Linked DNA regions of Homo sapiens: region 1 is linked to region 2. Evidence: fine-mapped QTL for protein levels in blood plasma. Region 2 holds a variant in brackets. A gene starts in the other region. All regions are shown on their reverse strands.

Region 1 (15,515 bases), not on the chromosome of region 2:
GCCACCATGCCCTGCTAATTTTGTATTTTTAGTAGAGACAGGGTTTCCGCCATGTTGGCCAGGATGGTCTTGAACTCCCAACCTCAGGTGATCCACCTGCCTCGGCCTCCCAAAGTGCTAGGATTATAGGCATGAGCCACCGCGCCCGGCCGATCATTTATTTCTAAATAGTTTGTCATTTCTACTTTGATTTATCTTTAGCCCAAGAGTTATTTAGAAAGGCGTTCTTACATTTCCAATATGGATTAGCCTGGGGAGGACAATTATTGTATTAATTTCTAATTGTATCACTGTTAGGAAACGGCCTATATGACTTTTATTCTGTGAGATTTGGCATTTTCTTTGTGTCTTAATACATGGTATTTCTTAATCTTCTATGCGTATTTCAAAAGAACTTGCATTCTGCTTGTCGGATACAAAAATCATTGAAGTCCAATCCTCACATGCCATCCTACCTGCTTTTGCTTCTCCAGACCTGAGGTGGGTCTAGACAAGAAAGACAAAAACTCCCAAGAAAGGAAGAAGAGGGGGAAAAGGCCCTCTAGGTAGATGTTATGTACACTAACAAGGAATCTGTGGCTAGGAAGGTTAATTCATCCAGAATCACACAGTAAGGAACACAGCCAAGATTAGAAACCTGGGTGGTCTAATCCAATGTTCACTCCTTCATTAACTCAGAGAGGCATCTCAAGGTCTCATCACCCATCAGCACAGCCACAATGTTCCATGCAAAGTAACAGATTCATTTGTTCATTCTTTCATCCGGCAGTATTTATTGCACATCTAACATCTGCCAAGCAACAGTCCATGCGATACAATACCACATGACACGTGAGGACAGTGCTTTAGCCCAAGGAATTACACACCCAAGAGAAGACGCAGTGCCCAACCTTGCCTGAATTCAAGGTTGAGCCTGGGGAAGATGGAAGCTTATTAGAGAATGTTGGCAGAAGTGACTCCTTGGAGAAATTTTGTGGAATGTGTGGATTTACCCAAATGAAACCTACAAGAAGGCCACTCAGGGTGAGGAGATCAGACCTTCTTCCTGCTTTCTTTCTCATCCCAGGAGCCATTCAAGGAGATTCAAAGAAGGCCTTCTTCTTCCTCCTGGAGATCTCAGGTGTCCTTTAGATCCTTCCTCCTCCACCCCACACTTCTTCCCTCTCTTCCACTCCCTTCCCCTGTCTCCTGTCCTGGCCTCTGGACACCACCATGGCATTCAGTTCTCAAGGACACAGAGAGGAGGAAGAAAGGAACTAATACTGTCTTACTCCATCCTCAGCCTTCTCCCCAACCCCTCCTTTCAGCCTCTGTCCCACAAGCTTCCTCTCCCTCATGGTCATTCTAGAATACTTAAATAACAGTGACAACGCGCAACCTTCATTAAACACTCAACATGTGCTGAGTGAGGATCCTTCTAAGATGTGTGCTTTCTATTGACCATGACAGTTAATCCCTAGGCCAGTCTTCTGGGGATATTCCCCATCTTACAGCTGAGAAAACTAATGCATAAAGACACCAAGCAACCTGACCAAGATCCTGCAGACAGTGGGCACCTGAGCTAGGAGGGGTGCCTGGGCAGCTGGCTGCCGGGACTTTGTCCTCAGCCATCTGGAGTGTTGCCTCTTAACGGCTGCTCCACCACCACCCTAGCTGTAGCATGTAGCACTGGCCACAGGAAATGTGCTTCCAGAGCACTAGAAAACAGATGCCGGAGCCCTGCCGCCAAGGTCACAAAAAACAAGAGACTAAGCAATTGTCAGACAGGCCAGAGGAAGCTAAGGAGATGTGACAACCGAATGCAATGTGGTGTCCTGGATCGCATCCTAGAACAGAAAGAGGACATTAGTGGAACAACTAGTGAAATCCAAATAAAGTATGGAGTTGGGTGAATAGTAATGTACCAATATAAGTCTCTTAGTTTTGCTAAGTGTACACTGTAGTATAAAATGAGACCAAGTGAGGGAACCAGGAGAGGACTAGACAGGAACTCTCTGTACTATCTTTGCAACTTTTCCATAAATCTAAAAGTAGGCTAAAACTTAAAAATTTATTAAAAAAAAAAAAACCCTGATGCCATACTGAGCTGTCCTAACCCAGACAGCTGAACATAACCAGACAGTATTTGCTCCACTAATCTCTTTAGGTGGGGGGTTGAACTTCACTCAGTTTCCAGATGGAGACTGGGGAAAGTTGCCATGGAAATGGTCCAATGCCAAAAAGCAGGCTACCCTGAGAGAGGAGATGGGGTGGGGGCAGTTGCAGAGGGGCCTAACATAAAGGTGGCTGGAGGTAAGGCCCCTCAGGGACTACAGAATCTGCGGGCAAATAAATTTACAGAATATCCCCATTCATTGACAGGACAGTTTGGTTTACAGCTTTACAGGCTTTGGGCTGGGAAGGTATAAGAGAGAATGAGACATATGTGGTCTGTGCTCTCCCAGAGCACAAGAACTAACAGAGCCAGTGGCATCTGAAATTGCAATACCATGTGGCTATTTGTATACACCACCAAAAGTAAAGTTTGCGGGGTCCGAGGAAAGGCATGCTCAGTGCTGTCAGCCTGGGAAGCTGGATGACACTGGAACTGAGACTTTGGAGATATGTAGGATTTTGCCAGGAGAAAAATGGAGTACCTAAGTTTTCACCATGGTAGCCACATCTTCGCCTTCATTGTCTTTCTAAATAGGGGCAACCTTCCATGTCATCTTGGGCTAGGTGTTTAGGTGTAGTTAGGAGCCTTGGAACTCCGTCCTTGGGGATGGACCTGTAAGGTCTGGCTTCATTAGCAAACATATGGATTCCCTCAGTAAATGTTCCACTTCAGGTAGGTAAAGATTCACCAGCCCACAGGGAATGGAGCAAGAAAAATAAGTCATAATAATGAGTAAAGGATGTGTAAGGGTCAAGCTGTTATTAATCAACTAAGAGACAAATGTTTAATACAGGCTTACCATGCAGAGTGCTAGGCCCTGGGGCTCCAGAGGACTATCATAACTGCTGTTGCATCAGAGGCATATAGTGCAGTTAGGGAGATGATCGAATACAGTGTAAGGGGATACGAAGAAGCAAGACACACACGTTCAATTCTTGAGCCCACCACTTCCCAGATGGGGATCTCAGTCAAACCTGAGACTCAATTCCTTCACTTGTAAAACGAGAATAATATCTCAATTCCTTGCTTGTAAATGAGAATAATATAAAAACCCACTTTGCTTTGCAGGGTTGAGAGAATTAGAGACAAGGTATGTAAGGTATGTAGCACAAGTCTGTCCAATAGTAGCTGCTCAATAAATGATTGTTGTTATTGTAATTGATGTGGTGACAAGAAGTACTAGAAACACTGACCTTAAAGACAAAAGGACCTAGAAGATAAAGGGGATAAAGGGTCTAACTTATAAAAAGCAACGGACAGTGGTTTCAAACCCACTCCATGGTAATTAAAAAAACAAAACAAACAAACAAAAAAAAAAAACCCACAACCTACTGCAAAGCAACATGCACCCCGTGAGAGCTGCAAGAATGGAGGAGAGTATTCTAAGTTGCAGTTACAGAACACTACTACCTATAAAAAATGAGTTTTGGAAGATGGGTAGAAATTTTGACAAAAGGCAGGGAGGAAGCTTTGGAAGAGAGAGAGGACAACATGAACAAGTGTCCCTCCCTTAGCTCCTGCCAATTCCCCCGACTTCCCCCACACTCACAGGAATAAAAATAAAATTAATCCTCTTCTCTCATCCAAGCATTTTCTGGCCTCCGGCTGATGGGGCTGTAATCCCTACTCAATCCCCATCACTCTCAGCTCTGGTTCCCGTCTGCTCACAGAAAAACAGCTCTTCCAGAGAATGAATCCTCCCAGGTACAGAGAAGAGGGGAGGCAGGAATCCTGACTTGAATGAAATTTTATGACTAGAGAAAGACAGAATCTCAGTGAAGCGCAGATTGGTATGTTAAGGTTCAGTTATGATCCAAAGCACCTGGCACATAAAAGCGGCTCGATAAATATTTATTAACAAATTAAGCTTTAAAGGAGAAGTACACAGCTCCATGTTGCTGATGGGGTTATAATGTTATCCTAAGGAACTATGATTCCACAAAGATCCTGGAGCTTCCAGTGGGGAAGGAGGCCAATAACAGCCATTTAGGAAGCAGCAAGACACAGAGAGAGTAAAAAGTTAGTCTGGCCTTTAGAGCCCCAGGTGGTTGATTTCATTAGTGTGTCCTTATTAGTGCTGGTCTTTGAAGGGCCATTACATCCACGTCATTTCCAGTCCTCTACAGATCCGTCTCCAAGGGAGTCCAAAGCCTTCAACCTCTATTCCATACATCACTGGCTTCTCCATTACCACCATATGGCTTTGATTACTGTTGGCCCTCTTGTCATATACTACATGTCTTTGTCTTCCCTATGTGATCATTTACCCTTTGATACTAGGACTTTGTCAATCCTGCCTAAACTTGACGCCCAGCAGGATGCTAGGCACACAGAGGTCACAAAGCTCTGATCATGGTGGTCAGCAGGTACCATGCACATGCGACCCTGCTGATGCTCCCTTGAGTTGTTTATATGCTTGATGGTTTATACACCAATGCGAGAGTGATTAAGACAATCTAGGATCCTTGCCTTTCTTGTTAAGCCTCAATTCACTCACTTGCAGAATGAGAATAATAGAAAAACCCACTCTGCTTTGCAGGGTTGAGAGGATTAGATACAAGGTCTCTTTACTTATCTGGTACGTAAAGTAACTTATGTATCTCCAACCACCTTTACATATCTGAAAAGGTCAGATTGGGCTGGAAGAATCAGCTGAGCTCAAGCATTACTACTTCTTGGGAACCCACCCAAAGCCTCATGCCCATCTCCCATCTTCCAAAGACTGGCCAACAGGGTCTTCCTGTGGTTGCTTCTATCACAAGGATGATATCCTCATGTCTATTTCTTCTGTTTCTTCCTACCTGACCATGAACTTTCTAAGGGCCAGGAACATGCGTTTATCACCATTACACTCCAGCATCTAGTACAAGGACTGGCACACAGTGGGTACTCAGTACTCAGCAAATGTTTGCTGAATGAAAACAGGGCCATGCAAAAGCATGGAACTGTCTGGACTCAGCAGATTCAAAGTTCAGCTGCTGAGAAGTCAGAGAAAACCATGTCCTGGGATAGGCTGGGTAGAGGCACTGCACATTCTTGGCAAGCCTGTCCTGTGTCACTGAAAAAGCAGGCTGTCGAGGGAGCCCACCAGGAAGAGCAGTGCAAGAGAAGAGATGAGATGAGACCAGGTGAGTCAGATCTTGTGACCATGGCCTCAGGAAGGGATGCCCTTCTGTGTGGACGCTGTTGCCAGCAGGCCAAGACAGAGGAACTAACAATAACAGTGGTGGGTGATTGTCACGGATTATCTCATTTTATCCTCACAATGATCCTATGGGAAAAGGGTGATGAGCCACTTTACAGGGGCAACTCTTGAGGCCTCAGTCCCTGTAGACTTCAAAGCCTCAGGACAGGCTCACAATTAAGCATTTTATAAAACCACACATTCTTAAGGTTGGTGAAGGCCTTATATCTCCTAGTTCACCTCCCCTCCAAGAGATGCTCAAATTCCTACAACATTCAAAATCCCAACAAGCTTCTTGCTTCCTTCCCATGCTGGAGGGTGCACCATCTACTCCATCCTTGGGCAGCTCTGTCTACTAAAAACGCTTTCTTACAGATTCCTCATTTCTACCCATCAACCCCACATGTTCTCTTTGTATCTACCCAGAACAAAGTCAATCACAGGCACGGAAAGCCCTCCAGTTATCGGGAGGCAGTTACCACCTCCCCTCCCCAGGATTTAGAAAGAACACCACAGAAAGAGATTGCATAGGCTGCTCAATGTGCAATTTGTTTCATGCAGGTTAACAAACGCTTCTAATTGATAACGGAAATCAGAGGGAGAAGACGCATATCTTGTTTCAGTGAGGGTGATCCCTGGGAGTCTGGCTGGGGAGAGGGGATAAGAGGAGGTGAACTGACACCAAAATCCACATAAACCTTAACAGTCTTCAAAGAAAAACCTATAATAACGCCAGAGGGGGCTTCTGAGATCAACTCAATTCTTTGTTGTATAAAGGAGGAATTGAGAAGCAGAGAAGTGACGCAAAGAAGCACAGTGATCAGTCTTGGAACCTGCCACCTGTGTCCCTTTGTCCCACGCTGCCATGCATCTGCTCCAAGACGCTACAGAAGCCACCCTGTGATTTCAGAACAATCCTCCCATAATACCACCACCATCTCCAGTCTCACTTTCACCACATCCCCAAGAGGGAAGGGGAGGAAACCTATCATTAATTCCATTGTACAGAGGGTAACCATGAGGCACCGAGGAGAGGCAAAGAGACTTGCTCAGCGTCCCCAGGCAAATTAAATTTATTCTTGGAACTCAAAGCTCAGTTAAGACTCTTTGCTCATTGTTGACAATGAGCTACTGAAAGGGGCCATGGAGTATCTTCCTCTGGAAGTGGATTTCCTAATAAATGGAAGAGCCTGCTGTTCAGTTTTGTACTTTTTTATGGTTGCTGGGTGTGCCGACACAGAGAGATCTTCAAAATCGTGCTCTTCTTTTCCTTCTGCCTCCCCAACCAGCGTGCTTCAAGGGAAGGAGCACTGTGGAGAGTGTCAAGAGCCTGGGTTCCTCTCCTGGTGGTGCCCTGGCCGGCTCTGTGTCCTGGAGCATCCCTCCTACCCCGTGAGCAGCAGTTTCCCCATCTATAAAAACAGGGGCAATAAATTCTGCCCCATCAGTAACCTGGACGCTGTGAGGCTGAGATGACTAAGCACAAGCCTGAGGCAGAGAGGCCACTCCCACAATAGGCAACTGTCCCTTTGCTTCTCTCACTTCCCCAGCTACCTGCCTCCTCCGCAGCCCTGCTACACAGAACAGGTGAAACAGGAATGAAGGTCTCATCCAAGCAAGGGAGAAAAAGGATAAACTCTTGTAACATCATCCCAGCAGTCCCTGACATCTGCATTTTCCCAAGAGCACTCACAGTTATTAGCATATTTCACCATTTATTAAGTCCCCCGTGCCATGCACCCTAAAAGTGTTCTTAAGCATCTTCTGTTGCATTTCGACCTTACAACTACCCATTTTACAAATGACAAAACTTAGGCTGGGATTTTAAGGGATCACCAGTAAGCAGTGGAGCCAGGAGACAACCCCAGTTCTAATCCAGTCCAGTGCTTCCCAAACTGTAATGTGCCCATGAATCACCTGGGGAAATGGATGAATAATTAGATTCTGATTCTGCGGGGCTAGACTCAGGCCTAAGCTGCTACACTTGTAACAAGCTCCAAAGTAGATGGACTAAACTCTTGAGTGTCAAGGGCTAGATTTTAATTCTATTAAGGTAGAACCTGTGCCACTGAATCTCCAAGGCTTAGCACTGGACCTCCCCATAGAATACACTCAATAATTATGTACTGAATGAGTCAATGAATATCTGGCTTAAAACCCTATGCGTTAACCCTTTTCTGTATCAAGTTCCATTGTATCAGCTGATCCTCCCAACAAATTCCTAGGGTATGATCATTCCCATTTGATAGATAAGGAAACAGAGACTCACAGTAAGTAACCTAAGGCTTTACAGCTTTTGCGCAGCCAAGGCTGGAGGTAGTCTACCTTCAGATCCTTTGACCTAACCACAGCTGTTCCAAAAGATACGGCGGGGGAGGGGGGGACAATGACACCCGGGGATAACAATTACAGACCACCGGTTGGAGAGGAGCTGACCCATCCCAGCATGTGACCGGCTCACAGCTCCAGAGGTCACCAGAGAGCTCTGAGCTGCTCCCTGGGGGAAGGGGCAGCCAGGCCTGTAGCACCTCAGGAGAGAAACAGGAAAGGGAGAAGGAGGCTGGTCCTGGGCATAGTGCCAGGCAGCAGTGGGCAGGTGGTGAAGGGACCCCTGACCTCCCGGGCCCAAGCACCCGCTTCGGGAACCAGCTCTGGACAGACACTGTCCAGCTTGCGGGGTGGGAGAGTTAGAGGCGTTCAGGAAAATCATTGCCTAGCGATGAATCACCGGGCACATGACCCCGCAGGGGAGGGGAGGGGAGGGTGCGGAACCGGCGCGGGAAGCGGTGGGGGCTTGGGGAGGGCAAGCCTCCGGCTCGGGCCCCCCTCCAGCCTCGACTTGGGGAGCAAAGGGAAGCCCCTCTCCCATGCAGCACCCCTCCTGGCAGCACCCCGCCTGCGGCGAAACTCACGGCCTTCAGCTGCTCCAGACGGTCCTTCATCCTGAAGCCCAGGCGCCCGGAGGCAGGTAGCGCGTCCCAGGTGAGCGCGTCCCAGGTGAGCGCTTCCCAGGTGAGCTGCCGGAAGCGGCGGCCGGGCCCGCCGGGGCGAAGGAGCTGGAGGCGCAGGCGGCGGCGGGCGGCGGCCGCTAGCTAGGAGGAGCGTCCGAGGCCACGGGAGCCTCCGCCGCGCAGCCCCCTCCGCCCCCACCGGCGCCTCGCGCTCCAAATCCGGCTCCCGGGCCGGCGCCGGCGCAGCGCTGATCCGCCCTGGACCCGCCCCTACCTGGCCGCGCCCCTCGCTCCTTCTTAAAGGGCCCGCGTCCCGCCACCGCCCGGCCGCCCGGGGCGTCTCCAAAGCCCCCTTCCCTAACCCGAGAGCCCTCCAGACACGCGTGGAGTCCGGGGAGAGGCCCCTGCACCGGCGGATCCTGCCGCAGGGCCGAGGAAGAGCAAGAGCGACTGTCTGGCTGCGGTCATTCGCTGTCTGTGCCGGGCTCCTCGCTAGGATCCAGTTCTTAGCCGACTCCTTGCTAGGCGGGGACAAGCTCCCGAAAACAAATAAGACAATGTGATGTGGGCTACATTGGGTGGCAGTCGAGTGTTCTAAAAATATCCCGCCAGGAGGAAGGCATTCCGAGTAGCGGGATCCCGCGCAGCCTCAGGGCTGCTGGCAGTGAAAGTGGGGGGATGGAGGAGGTGTCCAGAGGAAAGACCTGGAGATCTGGAGATACAGGACGGTCAGGGTGGTCAGAGAATTTGGATCTTTTGCTTGTTGGAAATCGGGACCGCTCCGAGAAACGTAAGCAGCTCGATGTTGTTAGTGCCAGTGGAGACACTTGGCACTCACAATTTGCAGACGTTTGGGAAAGCATCGTTTCTCAAGAGGACCCCGTTCCCGTGTCTGTAAATCAGAGATGGTACCCACTTCGTAGTTCGCTGTGAAGCCTGTGAGCGAGGAGGGGCTTTAAAATACAGAACTTTGCACTGGAGCGCTCCCCGTCCTCGCAGCCTGCTTGGTGTGCAGGTGGTTCCCAGGCGGCTTCTGCTTCCGAAAAGCAGATCGTCCCTTTATCTCGAGTCTTCTCCCCGCCTCTCCCTCTTCTCCCTACCCTATTTGTCTTCTTGGGAACAAATGGCACATTCATCAGAGTGGAGATCCATAAACGGGACTGGCGAGCCGAAGATTTAATTCTGAAGAATAGGATCTGCTCTGTGCTTTCAGGTTAAAAAGCTGTAAATATCTTTGTAATTCTAGCAGTACTTTGCCCTCTTCTGCCATCTGAACGCGTGCTCCCTGCTGACCTCATCGGCTCCCATAAAGATACGGTGCGTATGGCAGAGGTCGGGCTTTGAGCCGGCCCCGCGGGTCTCGGCCGTAGTTCTCTCTCGCGTCCGGCACACTTCCTTCTGCCCGCTGTGCTCGCTGGGCAGGTTGTCCCCGCCTTAGTACCAGGAGGGCTTCCGCGCCCCCTGGTGGTCATACTAGGAAAGGCGAGTAGATCAGAAATACACACTGTCCCACCTCCTTCCCCTAACACATTTTTGGGGAGTTTGGGGGTTGTTTGTTTGTTTGTTTGTTTGTTTGTTTGTTTTTTAGACAGAGTCTCATTCTGTTGCGCAAGTTGAGTGCAGTGGCGCGATCACCGCTCTCTGCAGCCTCGATCCCCTGGGCCCAACCCATCCTCCCATCTCAGCCTCCCAAGTAGCTGGGATTACAGGCGTGCGCCACTACGCCCGGCTAATTTTTGTGTTTTTTTCGTAGAGATAGGGTTTCGCCATGTTGCCCAGGCTGGTCTGGAACTCCTGTATTCAAGCCATCCGCCCGCCTCGGCCTCTCGAAGGGCTGGGATTACAGGCGTGCGCCACTGCGCCCTGCCCCTTAACAGATTTTTGTTAGTGGGAATACGTAGTTCCCCGCGCTTCAAGAAAATAGAGTCTTCCGCGAGAGGCCGAGATATGAACAACCCTTCACGTTAGGAATCTGAAAAGGACCATTGGGGTCTGGAGTAAAAAATTCTCTTTCCACAGCAGGAATCAAGGGTGGCCTGTCTGCCTCTGCTCAGAGGGTTCCTGTTACAGGATAATTGTTTTGAAAAGAGTAAAATCATGACTCCTCTACAAATATAAAATGCACACACATCAAAGACTTTAATTCATTAATGAATGAGGAGACCAGTAAAGCTAGCCCTGTCCAGAGGAAAACACAAAGTGTACACACATATATAGGCAATCAGGAATGCTGAAACGAACATGTTAATAAATGCACAACTGGCCGGGTGCAGTGGCTCATGCCTGTAATCCCAGCACTGTGGGAGGCTGAGGCGGGCAGATCACTTGAAGTTAGGAGTTCAAGACCAGCCTGGCCAACATCTTGAAACCTCATCTCTACTAAAAATACAAAAAATTAGCCGGGCGTGATAGTGCACGCCTACAAATCCCAGCTACTCGGGAGGCTGCGGCAGAAGAATCTCTGGAACCTGGGAAGCAGAGGTTGCAGTGAACTGAGATCACACCACTGCACTCCAGCCTGGACCACAGAGCAAAACTCTGTCTTAAAAATTATATTTTTAATAAAAATAAATAATAAATGCAGAACTGGCCTCGGGGTGCTGGGAGAGCAATTGCACTTCTACCAGGCATCTCTATGGACAAGAATCATTGGCATTCCTATGAATTTTCTACAACTTACCAAGTTGGAAAATAGCTGCAAGATTTTATAAGGCAAAAATCACTAAAAAATCAGGTAATCCAGAAAGGTGCTTTAGATAAGGCCTAGCATGCCACAGGACACCCAATAATTTTTGGAGTTTTTGCCATTTTAACTTTTTTAGTTTTTCCAGACATTCCCAAGGTGGCACCTTCCATAGTTGTACAGTTTCAACTGTGTTAAAATTTCTTTGTCGGGGACTGTTGTGGGGTGGGGGAACGGGGAGGGATAGCATTAGGAGATATACCTAATGCTAAGTGACGAGTTAATGGGTGCAGCACACCAACATGGCACATGTATACATATGTAACAAACCTGCACGTTATGTACATGTACGCTAAAACTTAAAGTATAATAATAATAAGAATTCTTTGTCAGCTTGGGCAACAGAGTGACACCCCATTTCTACAAAACATACATAAATCGAGCCAGGTGCAGTGACTCACGCCTGTAGTCCTAGCACTTTGGGAGGCTGAGGCAGGTGGATCATGAGGTCAGGAGATCGAGACCATCCTGGCCAACATGGTGAAATCCCGTCTCTACTAAAAATACAAAAATTAGCTGGGCGTGGTGGTGTGTGCTTGTAATCCCAGCTACTTGGGAGGCTGAGGCAGGAGAATTGCTTGAACCCAGGGGGTGGAGGCTGCAGTGAGAATTGCTTGAACCCGGGAGGCAGAGGTTGCAATGAGGCGAGATTGCGCCACTGCACTCCAGCCTGGTGACAGAGCGAGACTCCGTCTCAAAAAAAAAAAAAAAATTAGCCAGGTATAGTGGTGCTCACATGCAGTCCCCAGCTACTCAGTAGGCTGCGGTGCAGGATTGCTTGAGCCCAGAATTTTGAGGCTGCAGTGAACTATGATCACGGCACTGCACTCCAGGCTGGGTGACAGAGAGAGACATGTCTCAAAAAAAAAAAAAATTAAAAGTATATCTATTCCTTTAAAAAGAGGAACAGGATATTTATAATGAAGCACAGATAAAGGGCAATTGGATAATTGTGGCTTTAAACTCCTTGTAATTAAAGAAATAAGCCATCTAATGTATTTCCTCGTTTGAATGTTTGAATAGCCATACTGAATTTTACTGCACTTTTATAACTTTGTTTTGTCCTGATATCTCACAATCACTCAGGGAGGGAGTTAGGGTACATATTATTATCCCCATTTTATTATAAATTAAATTAAGTACAGAGAAATAAGATGATTTTCCCAAGCTCACATAGCATGCTGATAGACATGCTGCAAAAGGCAGTGGTTGCCTGCCCAGGCTGTGGAGCCAAACTACCCAGGTCAAATCTCAGTTCTACCACTAATGGTTGTGTGACCTTTGGCAATTGATTTAATGCCCCTGTGCCTCAATGTCCTTATCCGTAAGCAAAGATAATAATAATACCCATCTCAGCCGGGCGTGGTGGCTCACACCTGTAATCCCAGCACTTTGGGAGGCTGAGGCAGGTGGATCACTTGAGGCCAGGAGCTCAAGACCAGCCTGGCCAACATGGTGAAACCCTGTCTCTAAGAAAAATACAAAAATTAGCCAAGGGTGGTGGCTCATGCCTGTAATCCCAGCAACTCAGGCGGCTGAGGCATGAGAATTGCTTGAATCTGGAAGGAGGAGGTTGCAGTGAGCCAAGATTGCACCACTGCACTATAGCCTCAGTGACAGAGCAATACTCTGTTTCAAAAAACTAATAATGATAAATAATAATAATAGTACCCATTTCATGGGTTTTTGTGAAGATAAGTGAGTTAATATATACGAGAATTGTTAATTCCGTAATTCAATAACTTGAAAAAAAGTCTGCTAACCCTTTATAACTGCACTGCTTTTTCAGAGAGCACGGGAAACTGAGAAATGCCTGGAATATTTCATTCACAGATAAAATAATAACCATCTTGGTATTCAGAGTCAGCATTTTCCAACATAAGTTCAGCATTCTCCAACATAATGCTGCATTTATCAACATAAGTTCAACAACACAACCCACTTCAAGACGTCCTCCAAAGAAAAAAGAGTTTGGAAAACATCGCAAAATAAATCCCTCAGCTTAGGGAATCATGACCACACATTTGCGGGAGAAAGGGGAGGGGAATGAATAGTCGTGGGGAGAACAGTTTGGAGGCAGACTGATACAGAGCCAGTGATTCATATGGAGACCAATAAGCTCTGGTATAAAGGTAAGAAAAGAGATCGGGTGTGGTGGCTCACACCTGTAATCCCAGCACTTTGGGAGGTCAAGGTGGGCAGATCAACTGAGGTCAGGAGTTCGAGACCAGCCTGGCCAACATGGTGAAACCCCGTCTTTACTAAAAATACAAAAATTAGCCAGGTCTGGTGGTGTGGCACCTGTAGTCCCAGCTACTTGGGAGGCTGAGACGGGAGAATGCTTGAACTCGGGGGGTGGAGGCTGCAGTGAGCCAAGATTGCACCACTGCACTCCAGACTGGGCAACACAGCAAGACTCTTATCTAAAAAAAAAAAAACAAGAATAGAGAAGCTACCGAAACTCCAAGACTCCGATATTTTCTCCATCACCTTTCCCTGGAATAGAAATTAGGATGAAAGATTATTAATTCAAAAAAAAGCACAAACTCAGTGGTCCCAGTTTCATTTGAATCCTATTCCTGGCTTAGCCCCACGTGTGCACTGTTTGGGCCTGCTGAGAACCTGAGAACAACATCTGGAGATAAATCCAAGGTAGGGCAGATTTTACATGATGATGAAGATGGCAATAACCACATTTACTGCCATATCTCCCTTTTTTTTTTTTTTTTTTTAGATGGAGTCTCACTCTTGTTGTCCAGGCTGGAGTGCAGTGGTGCAATCTTGGCTCACTGCAGCCTCTGCCTCCTGGTGATTCTCCTGCCTCATCCTCCCACGTAGCTGGGATTATAGGCACCCGCCACCATGCCAGGCTAATTTTTGTATTTTTAGTAGAGACAGGGTTTCACCAGGTTGGCCAGGCTGGTTTTGAACTCCTGACCTCAGGTGATCCACCCACCTCAGCCTCCTAAAGTGCTGGGATTACAGGCGTGAGCCACTGTGCCCCGCCCATATCTCCCTTTAAAAGTCACAAAGTACTTTCACTTAATATATCTATTGATCCTCAGAAGTACCCCCAGAATTTAGATCCTGCAGGTAGTTTAATCTCTATTTTGGAGGTGAAGAACCTGAGGCTGGGAAATGGAAAATGACTTTTCAAAAATAATATAACTAAGAACTAACAGTATAAAACACAATCAACTGTTGTGCCCCTTCTCCTTATCTTTCTGGCAGTATGCCATGTGTCTCTGCCCAGCAGTATTGAAGAGTGGCATGTGTTTAGAGCAGCGGGACCCTCGTCATTGCTCTCTTCAAAGCATCCTTAAGTTCTGTGTTCCTCATGCTGTAGATCAAAGGGTTCAGCACAGGGGTAATGAAGGTGTAAACCACAGACACTGCCTGGCCCCTCTCAGGATAGTAGCTAGAGCTGGGACACAAGAAGGCGAGGCGTGTACATCAGTCCTGGAGGAGAACCACAGTCAGGTGGGAGGAAAGGTGGAGAAGGCCTTGTGCCTCCCCTCTGCAGAGCAAATCTTCAAGATGGCGGCCATGATGGAGACATAGGAAAGAGTGATGAGCAGGAAGGGGACGGTGAGAAAGGTGGTGCTGACCATAGACATAGTGGCCTCATGGACCCAGGTATCTGCACAGGCCAGTCTCATGACAGGGAGGACATCACAGTAGAACGTGCTGATTTCTTTGCTGCTGCATAAAGGGAGTTGGAAGATAAGCACGGTCAGCTGCATGGCTAAGAAGAACCCCAACAGCAGAGACCCCAGGGTCAGCTGGACACACAACCTCCAGCTCATGATGAGGCCGTAACAGAGAGGACAACAGATGGCCACAAACCAGTCAAAGGCCATGACGGCCAGCAGGATGCAGTCAGCCCTTCCCAGGAAGATGAAGAAGAACATCTGGCCTCCACAGCCGGGCAGGGAAATGAGGTTTCTCCCCATGGGTAGGACATTGGCCAGAGTCAGAGGGGCAATGGTGAAAAAGTAGAAGATCTCCAGACCTGCAAAGTTTGTCAGGAAGAAGTACATGGAGGCTGGGCACGGTAGCTCATGCCTGTAATCCCAGCATTTTGGGAGGCAGAGGCGGGTGGATCACCTGAGGTCAGGAGTTCAAGACCAGCCTGGTCAACATGGTGAAACCCCATCTCTACTAAGAATACAAAAATTAGATGGGTGTGGTGGCATGCCCCTGTAATCCCAGCTTCTAGGGAGGCTGAGGCGGGAGAATTGCTTGAACCCAGGAGGTGGAGTTGCAGTGAGCCGAGATTGAGCCATTGCATTCCAGCCTGGGTGACAAAGTGAGACCCTGCCTTTAAAAAACAAACAAACAAACAAACAAACAAAACTGCATTCTTTTAAAGGCTGAATAATACTCCATTGTATGTATATGCTACCTTTTGTTTACCCATTCTTCTGCTCATGGACACTGAACTATTTCCACTTTTTAGCTATTTTGAATAATGCTGCTAGG
Region 2 (15,515 bases):
AAGTACGCATAAGATCACCTTTGCTCTTAAGGAACTGAAAATCTTATTAAGTTTTTAGAAGTCAAAAGTCTGAAAGTTGTTAAGACTTGCCAGAGCCTAAAGAACATTCTAAAACCCCTCGTCAGGCCCACACAACCTGACAAAGTGAGCGCATTCATTGACAGTGGCACCCTCCAATCACCCCCAGTACCCTATTCCTTTTCAATTTTACAGGAAGCACAAGCTTGAACAGGGCCCAGACTATAGTCCTATCCTAGATCAAGTCTAGGCAGGTACCTCCTCTTCCCATGGCTCCACTGCTTTTATTCAACCCTATGTAAGGACTGTGGCAGATGGAGAGTCAGCCCACAGTCTTAAACCTCATTCCACAGTTGCACTGGGTGGTTGGAACACAGATGGAGGCAAGGGGGCCATCTTGTCACCCAGAGCCTGAACTGAGTGGGACCTCTACCCATTGTCTCCACTAACAGTCACATGGCCACCTGCTGCCTGCAATTTAGCGTTGCGTTGCTCCTCAAACTTCTCTACCTCTCCCAGAGGAAGTTGGTGAGGTGAAGGAAGGAAGTGGCCAGGAATAACTACACTAACAGCAACCTCGTATCCATAAGTAAGGTTAGCTTCCACTTCCAGCCACCTTCCAGCATTCTGCCCTGGCTCACTGATAACCCTATCCACAAGCACACTTCCACTCCCATCTTTGCAGAAGCCTAGCCCTTCTCCCTAGCCACACAGCTGTATCGTGCATTAGCACTTGAGTTGTATTAAAAATGAATGTAGACCGGGTGTGGTGGCTCATGCCTGTAATTCCAACACCTTGGGAGGCTGAGGCAGGCGGATCACTTGAAGTCAGGAGTTTAAGACCAGCCTGGGGAACATGATGAAACCCTGTCTCTACTAAAAATACAAAAATTAGCTGGGCATGGTGGCACATGCCTCCAGTCCCAGCTACTTGGGAGGCTGAGACACAAGAATCACTTGAACTTGAGAGGCAGAGGTTGCAATGAGCTGAGATTGTGCCACTGCACTCCAGCCTAGGCAACAGAGTGAGAGTCTATCTCAAAAAAACAAAAACAAAAACAAAAACAAAACAAAACAAAGACAACGTAGAGCCAGTCAGGGTGGCAAGAGCACCTGTAGTCCCCACAACTCACGAGGCTGTTCTGTGTAGTAGCTGTGTTCTTAGTATTCCTGATGTGACAGTCAGCTTGACCTATGGATATTTTAGTTAAGATAAAAACGAAGAACAAAATTACCTAATTCAAGAAATTACAGGCTTATCCGGTATATCTATCCATGTTTATTTCCTCTGATGGTTTCAGGTTGATTTCAAAATACTTAACTAAAAACGTATTTCAATTTACTGTTTTTAAAAGACAGTTACCAGTTTAAAAGACAGTTCTGTAAGTCAACTATCAATGCTCAGGTAAATGTATATCTTAATTAAGTTTAACTTACCTCTCCAGGGGGAACACACCTGAAACTAGAGGAACAGCTTATGTGGTCTATGAGGACATCTTTGATGCCAAGAATGCATGTGATCACCTATCGGGATTCAATGTTTGTAACAGATACCTTGTGGTTTTGTACTATAATGCCAACAGGGTAAGTATAGCAAAGTTCTCATTGTGTAGTGATCTCATTTGAGAATTAGTGTAGAACTGGCCGGGCGCGGTGGCTCATGCCTGTAATCCCAGCATTTTGGGAGGCCGAGGTGGGCGGATCACGAGGTCAGGAGATCGAGACCATCCTGGCTAACACGGTGAAACCCCGTCTGTACTAAAAATACAAAAAATTAGCCGGGCGTGGTGGCGGGCGCCTGTAGTCCCAGCTACTCGGGAGGCTGAGGCAGGAGAATGGCGTGAACCCCAGGGGGTGGAGCCTGCAGTGAGCCAAGATCACGCCACTGCACTCCAGCCTGGGCAACAGAGAGACTCCGTCTCAAGAGAATTAGTGTAGAACTGTACTGTGATGATATATGTCTACTATGACTTTCTTTTTTGGCTAATGCTATTGATGAAATTCATTTGGCTGTAGATTGGTAATTTAATTTTGGTGCTTACCACATTTCCAGGCATTTCAGAAGATGGACACAAAGAAGAAGGAGGAACAGTTGAAGCTTCTCAAGGAGAAATATGGCATCAACACAGATCCACCAAAATAAATGTTTTCTACATTTTCATTTGGACTAAATCCCACGAATGACAACTACCACCTTTTTTTCCTTTTTAATTAATACTAAATATTGTGATTTCTTATTTGAGGTTCAAAATGACCTGCTTGAAACTTTGATACATATTGGAATACATTATGTTAATAAACTTGTAGCTTTTTGTGAAACACCTCAGTCTTTTCTCTTGAACTTTCCCTTCCTGTTTGATACCAGGAAAAAACAGTTGAAGCTTATCAAGAATTGTAGGTGCTCCTAGGGATTCTGAGTTTCTTGAGAACAGGATCTCTTTACATTCTTAATGCCTCCAGGGCCCGGTGCAGTGCTTAGCCATCAAAGGAACTTGCTGTTTATTGCATGTCCATTAATAATGAAATCTTCATAACAACTCAGTGAAGATAGGTATTTGCATTTTGCAGGTGAGGAAACCAAAGTTCATGATGTTGGTTGAATGAATAAAATGCTAACATACAAAGCTGGTGTGATAACAACCAGTTATTAACCAAGCCTTTACATTTGAATAATGCTTGCTTTATAGTTAACAAAACACCTGTGTCAATATGGGTACCCTTGTCTTTAGAACAGAGGTCTATTATAGAAATGGTCATTTAGATGATAGTACATTGTTAGAAACTTAGATTTGCCTCTTTAAATTGTTTTTTAATTATTATGGGTACATAATAATTGTCACATTGGTAGAAATTTGAGAGCAAGCTGCTTGGGTAGTGGCGTTGGTTGTTACATGTCTAAGATTGTATTTATGTAGACTTTTCCTTTAGTTATTAAGTATCTGTAGGTATATTGGACCTTAGCTCATAATATATCTTTGCCATAAATACTTAATGCTCATTCTTATTATCATGAGTTCCCATGACATGGAAACAGTATGGTTATTACCCCATTCATCATCATGGCAGCTTGGGAGAATATAGCCGTAATTTGCTTTTTATTGCTTAGGCATGGACCAAATGGAAAAACATGGACTAATTGTTTTGTGTGTGATTGGAACCTAAAATCAATTTGAAGGTACATACACTGAATCACTTCAATGTACAAAGAGCATCAATTCTGCTTTTAATTATATCTGAGTGTTTTTTGAAAGCAGTGTAAGAGAGTAGAGTCATTTCTAAGGGTGGGAAGATAAGAAAGGAGCTACAGCTGTAATTTTCTTTTGAATGCTTTTATGAATGCATTATTAGTTTTTGTAATGCACGGTGTGCCTTTAGGTAATGTAAAAAGAATTTTCTAAAAGACTTTCTTGTAAGAGAAAAACTGAAATTAGACTTTAAAACTTAGAGTGTGATTTGTCTAAGTGGCAGGCTAGCTTGCCTCTGGTGTAGTTGTTTTAATAACAAGGAGAAATTCCTTCTATTAGCAGTCATGACCAGTCCATCATTTGGATTGATATATCTGTTAGCTGAATTTCATGACCTAAAGTTAAGACTTAAAACTTCCCTCTAATTGTTTGGAAATTCCATATCCTGTCGCAATTAAGTTACAAGAACTTGCACTCAGTGGACAAACACTGACTCCCACTCTGCACACAGTACTGTACGAAGATGCTGAGGATATAATTATGATCGGTCCTCTGTGCAAGGCATCCAAAGCTCAATTTTTCAAATGCTTTTAAGAGTGCAACAGATGACTGTGTTTATATGTGCACACACATGTGCCAGAGCTGCTTTACTTTCATCTGGGTTAAATTTTTGAGTTTCTAAGAAAAAAATTCGTAGGAATAGAGAATTCATTGACTGAAAGTCTGAAAACAACTGATGTGACCTTGATCTTATTATTGCTCTTCTGTTTAACAGCTTTAGTGGCTCTCATAGGCCAATGTCCAGACTCATTAGCATACTGCATCATGATTTTCTGCATCATCTTTTAAGAGCTCCAGTAAAATGGTTCATTTCCCAGTTTACCTGCAGAGCCTCACCTGTCCTCTCCAGGTGCTAGCCAGTATGTGTTTGCACTTTGGGGGAGTTCTTTTAGTGGGTGTCTCCTTTGACCCACCTCAGTTATAAATACTCTAGACCAATATCTTTTATATGCCCCATAGTGGGCACCTGAAATAGTCCTTGATGCCATCTTTTGTTATCTTATTGGTGTCACAGCAGAAAATATGCGTATGTCTTTTATGCAGGCTGACTTCTGAGAAATTATTGTAGGCATTTGAGTCATCAAAGAAAGCCAGGAACCAAGACATTCTGAAGGAAATACCCTCTGGCTGGTCTAGTCTCACAATAGAGGTGAGCACAGGGACTTTGGTGACTAAAATGCAAGGCAGTTCCTTTCTCTCGTTTTCTCCATCCTAAAGCACTGCTTCTTCATTAGCTCCTCCACCCTCAGCAAAGGAATACAGCCAGGATTTCTTGGAGACAAAAAAGGTAGATCATGTAGCCAAGATGACATGGCCTCATAGCATATATATGACATCATGTGACATGTATCAGTGGGTCTATGAGGAACACTAACAGTACCTGTTATCAGCCCCTCCGTCCTCAATCTTGAAACAATTCGAAGTCGTCACTGATAGAAAACCGTATTGGCTGAGTGCAGTGATTTAAACCCATAATCCCAACACTTTGGGAGGCTGAGAGAAGATAGCTTGAGGCCAGGAGTTTGAGACCAGCCTGGGCAACATAGTGAGATTCCCCCATCTCTATTTTTTAAAAATAATAAATAAATGATTAAAAAAAAAAAAGAATAACCCCAACTATGGCCAGGAGTTTTTCTCATCCTATACCAACTGAAAGAAAAATGTTTGAGGCTGGGCGTGATGGCTCACACCTGTAATGCTAGCATTTTGGGAGGCCGAGGCAGGCGGATCATAAGGTCAGGAGATTGAGACCATCCTGGCTAACATGGTGAAACTCCGTCTCTACTAAAAATACAAAAAATTAGCCAGGTGTGGTGGTGGGCACCTGTAGTCCCAGCTACTCGGGAGGCTGAGGCAGAAGAATGGTGTGAACCCGGGAGGCAGAGCTTGCAGTGAGCCGAGATCATGCCACTGCACTTCAGCCTGGGCAA[C/T]AGAGTGAGACTCCGTCTCAAAAAAAGAAAGAAAAAAAAGAAAAATGTTTGAGTATATTGCCTCAGTCTCCTATGGCCTATATATAACCTACACCAATAAGTGTGCTGATTTTAAAACCTAACTGGTGTTTCTGGTTAGTTACAATAAATGTTGATGAAATAAGCACTATATGTGGAAACAAGTTCAGAATCATACATTCTTCTCAAAAGTAATTCCTCAATGTAAGTCAGAACAAATCTAGGTGAAACTAAGCAGTGTATGTGAAAACAAGCTCAGAATCACACACTCTTTTCACAAGGAACTTCCCAATGTGAGTTAGTGTACGACTTCAAGCCCTTAACACACCTTCATTTGTTTAGACACAAAAAGTGTTCTGTATCCATCTGGGTGAGTGGAGCTCATCCCTCTGGCTGTAGTCCAAACAAAGATTGCAAGAGCACATAAGGTGCTCAAGTCCCACATCTGATTGCTAGGCTACAAGATTTGGAGCCTATATTTCTTTAGTTATGCAGAGGAGGATTCTGAGCCTGAGATGAGCGGCAGGTAATATCTACTGTGCAGGGTTGCTTAGAGGATCAATGGTAATAATTTAAAAGTATATAGCCAGGCACAGTGGCTCACACCTGTAATCCCATCACTTTGAGAGGCCAAGGCAGGTAGATCAGTTGAGGTCAGGAGTTTTGAGACCAGCCTGGCCAATATGACAAAACCCTGTCTCTACTAAAAATACAAAAATTAGCCAGGCGTGCTGGTGAGCATGACAATCGTTTGAACCCAGGAGGCGGAGGTTGCAGTGAGCCAAGATTGTGCCACTGCATTCCAGCCTGAGTGACAGAGCGAGACTCCATCTCAAATAAATAAATAAATAAATAAAATAAAAAAGTATGTAGAACAAGGCCCAGCATGTAAAATGCTCACATTGTAGCTATTATATTTATCACTCACCTAGCCACTTGGAACCCTCCTTTCTTTCCACTCTTTCCCAAGGGCACCTGGCTTGTGTGGTCCTTAGAGCACTTCCTACCTAAAATAAGGATGGACAGGAGTTTGTCAAGCACAGAGCCTTTATTTTACATTTTCTCAAAGAGGACATTGTTTAAGTGAGCAGCTAACAGAATTTATAAGAGAGAAAGTGACAGCAAAGGTAACTGGCTCAAGTCCCTCTGTGTACGGTACGCCATGTACATTTCATGTCTGAGCACCTTGTGTGTGTGGTTTAAGTGAAGGTAAGGCAGTGTAGATTGTGCGAACAAGAGATCTGTGTTCTGTCATCAGGAAAGGCTACTACATGCATCACACAAAATGCACAACCTGAAATGCTTCAATCTGCAACCGAAGTTTCCTCAAGCAAGAATTCGCATGAACACTGACGAACACATACAGAGCAACTTGGGCAGAGAGAATGGATGATGCCATGAGGCAGTGAGGTTAGCACACTGATCAAGAGCCCCAAAAGCAGGAGCCGTCCCAGTGGCAGAGCAGGCTAGGAGGGTGAGCAGCAGCCATCTCCAGCCACCTTGAGTTCCTTCCTGCCTTCACTCTAAGTTGAGCAGCTCCACGTCAAAGATGAGGGTGGCATTGGGAGGGATGACACCGGGGTGGCCCGTGGCTCCATATGCCACATCAGGGGTGCAGGTCAGCTTCGCCCTCTGCCCCAAGCTCATCTAGCAGGGATGGGGGCAGATGGGGAGAGGAGAAAGAGGACCCAGCTTGATTTAAAAGAAAAAAGTTAGATGACTATGGCATTTTCCCAAACCATCCTCAATGTTAACTCTGAAGATCTCAGATGAATTTTACATGGGATACATTGAAATCGTGCTAACAGCTTTAACAAACGCAGATTCTGCCTCAGCAGAGATGTGACTGTGGGGCAGTAACCCTCACAGAGTGGTCTCAAATTCATGCATCTGACAAACATTACTGGTTATTCAATTTGTGTATGACTGAAACACTTCCATTTGTTCATAGTTCACCCTCTTCCAAAGAATAGGCCTCTTTAGGAAAAGAGGGTGTATGAATAGCACACGTAAATACTCAAGTAGGTGACAGGGGCAGTTATTTAAAGTGGTTTAGAGACTAGAGTCACCAGCAAGGTGGCAAGGGGGACCTATTGTGGCCAACCGTGGTGGCTCACACCTGTAATCCCAGCACTTTTGGGAAGCCAAGGTGGGCAGATCACTTGAGTCCAGAAGTTCAAGACCAGCCTGGCTAATATGGCAAAACCCTGTCTCTACTAAAAAATACAAAAAGTCCGGGCGTGGTGGCTCACACCTGTAATCTCAGCACTTTGGGAGGCCGAGGCAGGTGGATCACCTGAGGTCAGGAGTTCGAGAGCAGCCTGGCAAACATGGTGAGACCCCGTCTGTACTAAAAATACAAAAATTAGCCAGGCGTGATGGTGATGGTGCACACCTGTAATCTCAGCTACTCGGGAGGCTGGGGCAGGAAAATTGCTTGAACCTGGGAGGAGGAGGTTGCAGTGAGCTGAGATTGTGCCACTGCACTCTAGCCTGGGCAACAGAGTGAGACTACGTCTCAAAATAAATAAATAAATAAAAAACAAAAAACAGGCCGGGCACGGTGGCTCGCACCACTTTGGGAGGCTGAGGCGGGCAGATCACGAGGTCAGGAGACCGAGACCATCTTGGCTAACAACGGTGAAACCCCGTCTCTACTAAAAATACAAAAAAATTAGCCGGCCGTGGTGGCGGGCGCCTGTAGTCCCAGCTACTAGGGAGGCTGAGGCAGAAGAATGGCGTGAACCCAGGACGCGGAGCTTGCAGTGAGCCAAGATTGCGCCACTGCAGTCCAGCCTTGGTGACAGAGTGATACTCTTTCTAAAAAAAAACACCAAAAACAAGACCTATCGTAAGGGAGCATCATAGGACTTCACAGACAGACCAAGAAAGAACAGCTTGAACCAGGGCTCATCACAGCAGTTGTTGAGAACCCACTCAGCATTAGTGGGACAATTGGTGAAATTTAAATCTACTTTTGAATTTTGAATAATCAAAAATTTGAATAAGTAAGTAATTTGTATCAGTGTGAATGTCCTGGTTTTGATAATTGTACTATGGTTATGCAAGAAGGGGAAGCTGGATAGAATATAGAAGAACTCTGTACTATTTCTTTAATATTTTTGTAATTCTGAAATTCTTTTCAAAAAAGCGAAAAAACGAAAAATTTTCTTGGCCTACTCCACCCCAACTCTTCCACTACCTCAGTCCCAGGCAACTGGTAGACCTCAGCTAGTTTATTTTTTTGTTTTGTTTTTTTGAGACAGTCTCACTCCATCGCCTGGGCTGGAGTACAGTGGCACAATCTCTGCTCACTGCAACCTTCACCTCCCCGGTTCAAGTAATTCTCCTGTCGCAGCCTCCCAAGTAGCTGGGATTACAGGCATGCACCACCACGCCTGTATTTTCAGCAGGGACGGGGTTACACCATGTTGGTGAGGCTAGTCTTGAACTCCTGGCCTCAACTGATCCACCCCATTCGGCCTCCCAAAGTGCTGGGATTACAGGTGTGAGCCACCGTGCCTGGCTCTCTCAGCTAGTTCTGAGCAAGCCTAGGGGGATGTGCTTGGGATGAGAGCCCCCAGGGACACAAAAGAGGTATGCTGGCAAGGAGAGGGGTGGGGACGCAAAGCCAGGAGGGGACACCAGATGGCGTTGCCATGCCCTGGCTGTAGAGTCAAAGCAGTAGTGGTCTGTGAGTGGGTGAAGGTGGAGGTGGAGGGCAGAGTGCTGATCCCAGATCCCCAACTCCCCAGATCCCCTTTAATGCGAATCCTCATCCTACCTGGGCTGCACCCTCTTCAAAACCTTTGATGACTTCCTGTTTGCCAATTCTGAACTTGAAAGGTTTGTTTCTGTCTCTGGATGAATCAAACTTCTTCCCATTTTGGAGCATTCCTGTCAAAGCAAGAATCGGGTGCAATAGAGCTGTGGTCATGAGTAAACTCCCAATTCAGATTCCACATGTCTAAAATGGAATGCCTTTTCTGCACACACCTGCTCCTCTTCCGATCCTCCCCATCCATCCTGTTGCCCAAGCAGGAAATCTGGACACTTCCTTCTGCCTCACCCCCACATACTGCCTATCACTAAGTCCTCCATATCTTTGGAATCCACCTATTTTCTTCATTTCTATTTTTATTTATTTATTTATTTATTTGAGACAGAATCTCAATTTGTCACCCAGGCTGGAGTGCAGTGGCACAATCTCGGCTCACTGCAACCTCCATCTCCTGGGTTCAATCGATTCTTCTGCCTCAGCCTCCCAGGTAGCTGGCATTACAGGCGCCCACCACCACACTCAGCTGATTTTTGTATTTTTAGTAGAAACAGGGTTTTGCCATATTGGCTAGGCTGGTCTTGAACTCCTGAACTGCAGGTGATCCACCCACCTTGGCCTCCCAAAGTGCTGGGATTACAAGCATGAGCCACTGTGCCTGGCCTTTTCTTTGTTTCTATTACCACGACCAAGTCACCAGCTTATCTCACCTGTACACAGGAACAACCTCCTAACTGGTCTTTTTGATCCTCTTTTACTCGCCTCCATTTCATTGTCCACTTGGCATCCAGACTGATTTTTTTTTTTCTTTAAACACAAATCTGATTCTATTACTCCCCTGCTCAAAATACTTCAATAGCTCCCCAGAGCAGAATCCAAATGCCTACCTTGCATACAGGCACTTCACAATCCGGCTCTGGCCTGCTTATAACCCTCTCTGTTCTCCCCTTCCTTCCCTTCCCTCTGTGTCCTTTTCAGGTCATACCTTTCTCAAATTCCTCTGCACTTTTCAACTTTTTTTTTTTTTTTTTTTTTTTTGAGTCGGAGTCTCCCTCTGTTGCCCAGGCTGGAGTGCAGTGGTGTGATCTCGGTTCACTGCAACCTCCGCCTCCCGGGTTCAAGGGATTCTCCTGCCTCAGCTTCCTGAGTAGCTGGGACTACAGGTACCTGCCACTATGCCTGCTAATTTTTTTATATTTTTAGTAGAGATGGGGTTTTGCTATGTTGGCCAGGCTGGTCTCGAACTCCTGACCTCAGGTGATCTGCCCACCTCAGCCTCCCAAAGTGCTGGGATTACAGGTGTGAGCTATCATGCCCAGCCAGACTTTTCAACTTTTTTATGCCACTTCCTCCACCTAAAGTTCTGTTTTCCCAGCTATTCCAGCCTCAGGTTGAGTCCTCGCATAAGGTTCCTAAGGTTTCCTAAGTTTCCCCCAAAAGGGAAAACCCAAAGGTTACATTATCCCCTACTGTAGGGAACAGTGTAAGGTGACCTAGCTGGTCAGAGGTGGCCTCCAGACTCTGTACTAAGAGGGCTGTTTGAAACCAGAACCCCCCCCCAGGTGCTGGTCCAGCAGTTCTGGTTCCCCCAGCCTCTGCTTCAGAAGCCTTGTCATCCTGATGTCCACATGTCATCTCAGTCCAGCAGCCCAAGGCCCAACAGCTATTCTCAATTCTTCTGTGACTCTGACTCAAAGATCAGACCTTCTGTAAATGATGCAGTTCCACGACTGCTCCCGGCAGTCCCTGGACCACCACAAAAGGCCATTTGGGACTAGAAAAAGACCTTGCTTGTACATCCAGAGACTGGGTTTTGACTTCACTCTGGCTCTAACTCATTGTGTGAGACTGGGCAAATCACTTCCTCTCCCAGGGCCTCAGATGTGTCATATTTAACATAGGAAGCAGGGCCAGCTTAGTGTAGGAGCATCTATGATGCTACTTCCTAATTCCTACAACTAAAATATATATTAGAGAAACAGTCTTATTTAACTACTTTCTGAGTAGAATACATTAAGCTTTTGCCCTGGGTACTAACTGAGGCAAAGAAGAAAACCCTTCTGGCTACACAGAGGTACATGCAGATGGATGCTAACAAGATCAAATACAATCGCATGCATTTGCTAAGGTTGCTAAGATATTCAAATACACAAAGATACTTGTGCATGCTCACATGCACTTATGCACTCACACTCAGGAGAAAAGCCCTGGTGGCCAAATAGATGCTAAGAAAATATTTACATACACAGATCTACATACATTCACACAGATACATACTTGTACAAATATGCACACAGATATGCAAACACACATGCACACATTCACACACTCCATTTATATACCGACTTTCCTTTCTCATTCCTTAGTTTCTTCAGGTTTCATGTGACTTAATCTACTTTGGATAAATAACTTCATTTATCTATTGCTACAAGTTAAGCCAAAACCATGCAGTCTAGAAACAGACCCACTTACATGGTGATTTGATTGGACAAAGATACCACTGCAATGCAGCAAATAAAGGTTTTTTTTTCTTGCATTAAGGTTGTTGAGTCAACAGTATATTCATATGGGGAAAAAATGAACTTTAACCCCTACCAAATCCACACACAAAAAAATCAATTCCAGATGAATCATAAACCTAAATATGAAAGATAGAATAATAAAGCTTCTACAAGATAACAAATAGAAGGATATCTTCATGACCTAGAGACAATTTTTTTTTTTTTTTTCCTGAGACAGAGTCTCATCTCTGTCACCCAGGCTGGAGTGCAGCGGCTCAATCTCAGCTCACTGCAACCTCCGCCTCCTGGGTTGTTCAAGTAATTCTCCTGTCTCAGCCTCCCGAGTAGCTGGGATTACAGGCATGCACCACCATGCCTGGCTAATTTTTGTATTTTTAGTAGAGACAGGGTTTCACCATGTTGGCAAGGCTGGTCTCGAACTCCTGACCTCAGGTGATCCACCTGCCTTGGCCTCCCAAAGTGCTGGGATTATAGGCAGGAGCCACCGCACCTGGCCTGACAGACAAAGATTTCTTAAACTGAACACAGAAAGCACTAACCATAAAGGGAAAGATTGATAAGTCAGACTTCATCAAAATTAGGAACTTCTGTTCAGGCCAGGTACAGTGGCTCACACCTGTAATACTAGCACTTTGGGAGGCCAAGGTAGGAGGATCACTTGAGCCCAGGAGTTTGAGACCATCCTGGGCAACATAGGGAGACCTTCCTCTCTACAGAAAAACTAAAAATTAGCCAGGTGGCCGGGCCCGGTGGCTCACGCCTGTAATCCCAGCACTTTGGGAGGCCGAGGCGAGCAGATCACCTGAGGTAGGGAGTTCGAGACCAGCCTGACCAACATGGAGAAACCCAGTCTCTACTAAAAATACAAAATTGTCCAGGCGTGGTGGCGCATGCCTGAAATCCCAGCTACTCGGAAGACTGAGGCAGGAGAATTGCTTGAACCTGGGAGGCAGAGGTTGTGGTGAGCTGAAATCGTGCCATTGCACTCCAGCCTGGGCAACGATAGCAAAACTCCATCACACACACACAAAAAAAAACCAAAAAAAAATTAGCCAGGCATGGTAGCATGTTCCTGTACTCCCAGCTACTTGGGAGGCTGACATGGGAGGAGTCCTTGAACCCAGGAGGTCAAGGCTGCAGTGAGCCATGATCCCTGAAGACTAGAGCCACTGAACTCCAGCCTGGGTAACAGAGTGAGATCCTATCTCAAAAATAAAAAAGAAAGAAAAAAATTTTAAAAAGAAAGAAAAGAAGAAAATATAAACTATAAAAAAAGAACTTCTGTTCAAAATATACTATTAAGAGAGTAAAAAGGCAAGCCATAGTGTGGGAGAAGATGTTTGGGATAGATATAACCAACAAAAGACTCATATCCAAAACATATACAAAACTCCTATAAATCAACAAGAAAAAGACAACCGGCCGGGCACCATGGCTTACACCTGTAATCCCAGTACTCTGGGAGGCCGAGGCAGGTGGATCACCTGAGGTCAGGAGTTTGAGACCAGCCTGGCCAACATGGCGAAACCCTGTCTCTACTAAAAACCTCAAAATTAGCCGGGCACGGTGGCACACACCTGTAATCCCAGCTACTCAGGAGGCTGAGGCAGGAGAATCACTTGAACCCGGGAAGTGTAGGTTGCAGGGAGTGAAGATTGCGCCATTGCACTCCAGCCTGAGCAACAAGAGTGAAACTCTGTCTCAAAAAAAGAAAAAGAAAAAGACAACCTAATTTTCTAAAATGGACAAAATTAGAGCAGTCTAAAGAGGATATCCAAATGGCCAGTAGGCACATGAAAAGGTGCTCAACTTCATTCATCATCAGGGAAACACAAATCAAAACCACAGTGACCAGCCTGGCCAACATGGTGAAATCCCATCTCTACAAAAAATACAAAAATTAGCTGGGTGTGGTGGTGCGCACCTGTAATCCCAGCTACTTGGGAGGTTGAGGCACAAGAATCGCTTGAACCCAGGAGGCGGGGTTGCAGTGAGCCAAGATCGCACCACTGCACTCCAGCCTTGGCAACAGAGTGAGACCTTGTCTCAAAAAAAAAAAACAAAAAAACCCACAATGAAATGGTACTGAACGCTCACCAGAGTAGGCCAAAACCAAAACAAAGCCTGGTGTGGTGGCTCATTCCTGTAATCCCAGCACTTTGAGAGGCCGAGGCAGGCAGATCACCTGAGGTCAGGAGTTTGAGATCAGCCTGGCCAATATGGTGAAACACCGTCTCTACTAGAAACACAAAAATTAGCCAGGCATGGTGGCGGGCGCCTGTAATCCCAGCTACTCGGGAGGCTAAGGCAGGAGAATCGCTTGAACCCAGGAGGCAGAGGTTGCAGTGAGCCAAGATCATGCCATTTCTCTCCAGCCTGGGCAACATAGACTCTGTCTCAAAAAAAGAAAAAACAAAACAAAACCAAAACCTGACAATAACAAGTGTTGGGGAGGACACAGGGTAACTGGCAGTCTCCTACACAGCTGCCTAGAGTGGAAACTGGCACAACGACTTTGGAAAGCTGTCAGACAGTACTGCTAACGCTGAGCCCAGGAGGTACCCCACTTCCAGGTATATACCCAACAGAAACATGCACATATGTCTGTACACATGTACACTAAGAGATGCCTGCAAGACTGATCAAAGTGACACTGTTTGTAATAAACAAAAACTATGAACAACCCAAATGTTCATCAACGGTAGAGAGGATACATAAATTGCAACATACTTGTACGTTAAAATACTGTAGAGGAATAAACCATTCTGGATATATCTCGCAGACATAATAGTGAGTGAAATAAGCCAAACACAAAAGAGTACCTACGCTGTGGTTCCATTAAGATGAAGTTCAAAAATAGGCAAAACCAATCCATGGAGACAAAAGTCAGAGTAATAGTTGCCAGCCAGGCACAGTGGCTCACACCTGTAATCCCAGCACTAGGAGGCCAAGGTGGAAGGATCACTTGCATACAGGCGTTCGAGACCAGCCCGGGCAACATAGTGAGACCCTCATCTCTACAAAAAATTAAAATTAGCCAGGCATGGTGGCTCATGTCTGTGGTCCCAGCTAGTCAGGACACTGAAGCAGGAGGGTCACTTGAGCCCGAGAGGTCGAGGCTGCAATGAGCTGTGATCACCACTGCACTCAGCCTGAGTCACAGAGTGAGACCCTGTCTCAAAACAACAACAACAATGACAAAAAAAAAAAAAAAAAGAAAAACAATGATAGCTACCTCTAGGGAGGTGAAATGACTGGGAGAAGGCATCAGGGGGACTTTTGGGGATGCTGGTTCTATGCTTGTATGTTCTATGCTTCTCTAGGTGGTAGTCACATAAATGTGATCACTTTGAAAAAATTCATTGACCTAGACATCTTACATTATGTTCTCTACTATATTTATATTTAACTTTAAAGTTTACCAAAAGTCCCATAGTCTCCCGCTATGTTTGATAAGACATAGTCTCTCCCAAGACAGGAGCTGCTGCCCTATGTATGTATTGTGAAAGGACTTTGCAAAAGGATGTTGTGGTTTCAGTAACTTGATAAATACTGGTCTGTCTACAACATGCAAAATTGTTAAATCAATTACACAGGTCAGAGGCCCCAGACGACCCATGGTAATTAGGCCACATCACCAGGAGATAAAACATGGTCCAGCCCACTGACATCAGCGACCAGCAACACAACTGCTGAAAACATCCACACCATCTGCCTAGAATTAACCTTGTGCTTCACACTGGCCCACAGAACTGCTAAAAATGGCCCCATCCGAGTATGTCCTAGGAATTAACCTGGGCTTGCTGTCTGCTAAGTGGCTGTCATCGAGTTTGCCACTTTAGGAAGCAGGTCACAAGGCAGGGTGCTCACCTCCCTTGGAACAAACACCTGCTCATGATCTTCCTGCCAGCAGTCCTGAAGAACTCACTCTACCTCGCCTGCAGATAAAGAGCATCCAACTGGGATCAGTCCCGCTCTGGGCTCCCTCAGTACCCAGAGAAAA

Which allele goes with the higher level. Alleles are on the strand shown, and positions count from the first base shown. The strength of an association depends on the size of the effect and on how common the allele is.
For the plasma level of the protein whose gene starts at base 8,511 in region 1, T is the low allele of the variant in region 2 and C is the other (moderate association).

What was found. A credible set is the group of variants that fine-mapping cannot tell apart. PIP is the chance, under the fine-mapping model, that this variant and not a neighbour inherited with it causes the effect. Protein levels are from antibody-based Olink assays in UK Biobank. Linkage for the fine-mapping came from a reference panel and not from the study's own genotypes, which makes the PIPs less certain.
Region 1: STX3 starts here. The variant in region 2 is the best candidate, but not a certain one, in a credible set for the plasma level of the STX3 protein (UK Biobank, PIP 0.85).

What each region holds. Positions count from the first base shown.
Region 1 is chr11:59,748,372-59,763,886 of GRCh38, reverse strand. It overlaps STX3 (syntaxin 3), which reads right to left and starts at 8,511. Exons shown (of 11, transcript NM_004177.5): 1 at 8,252-8,511. The coding sequence starts at 8,281. It also overlaps the pseudogene OR10V2P. RefSeq lists a silencer at 8,311-8,570 and enhancers at 9,441-9,600, 9,537-9,831, 9,597-9,891, 9,581-10,081.
Region 2 is chr2:24,054,408-24,069,922 of GRCh38, reverse strand. FKBP1B (FKBP prolyl isomerase 1B) reads right to left here. Exons shown (of 4, transcript NM_004116.5): 3 at 8,997-9,109; 4 at 6,242-6,859. The coding sequence ends at 6,731. SF3B6 (splicing factor 3b subunit 6) reads left to right here. Exons shown (of 4, transcript NM_016047.4): 3 at 1,464-1,602; 4 at 2,072-2,337. The coding sequence ends at 2,161. Among named protein-coding and RNA genes, the nearest start is that of FKBP1B, 12 kb to the right of the region's middle. RefSeq lists an enhancer at 8,846-8,985 and a silencer at 14,990-15,284. The variant C/T (reference allele first, on the strand shown) is at 5,195.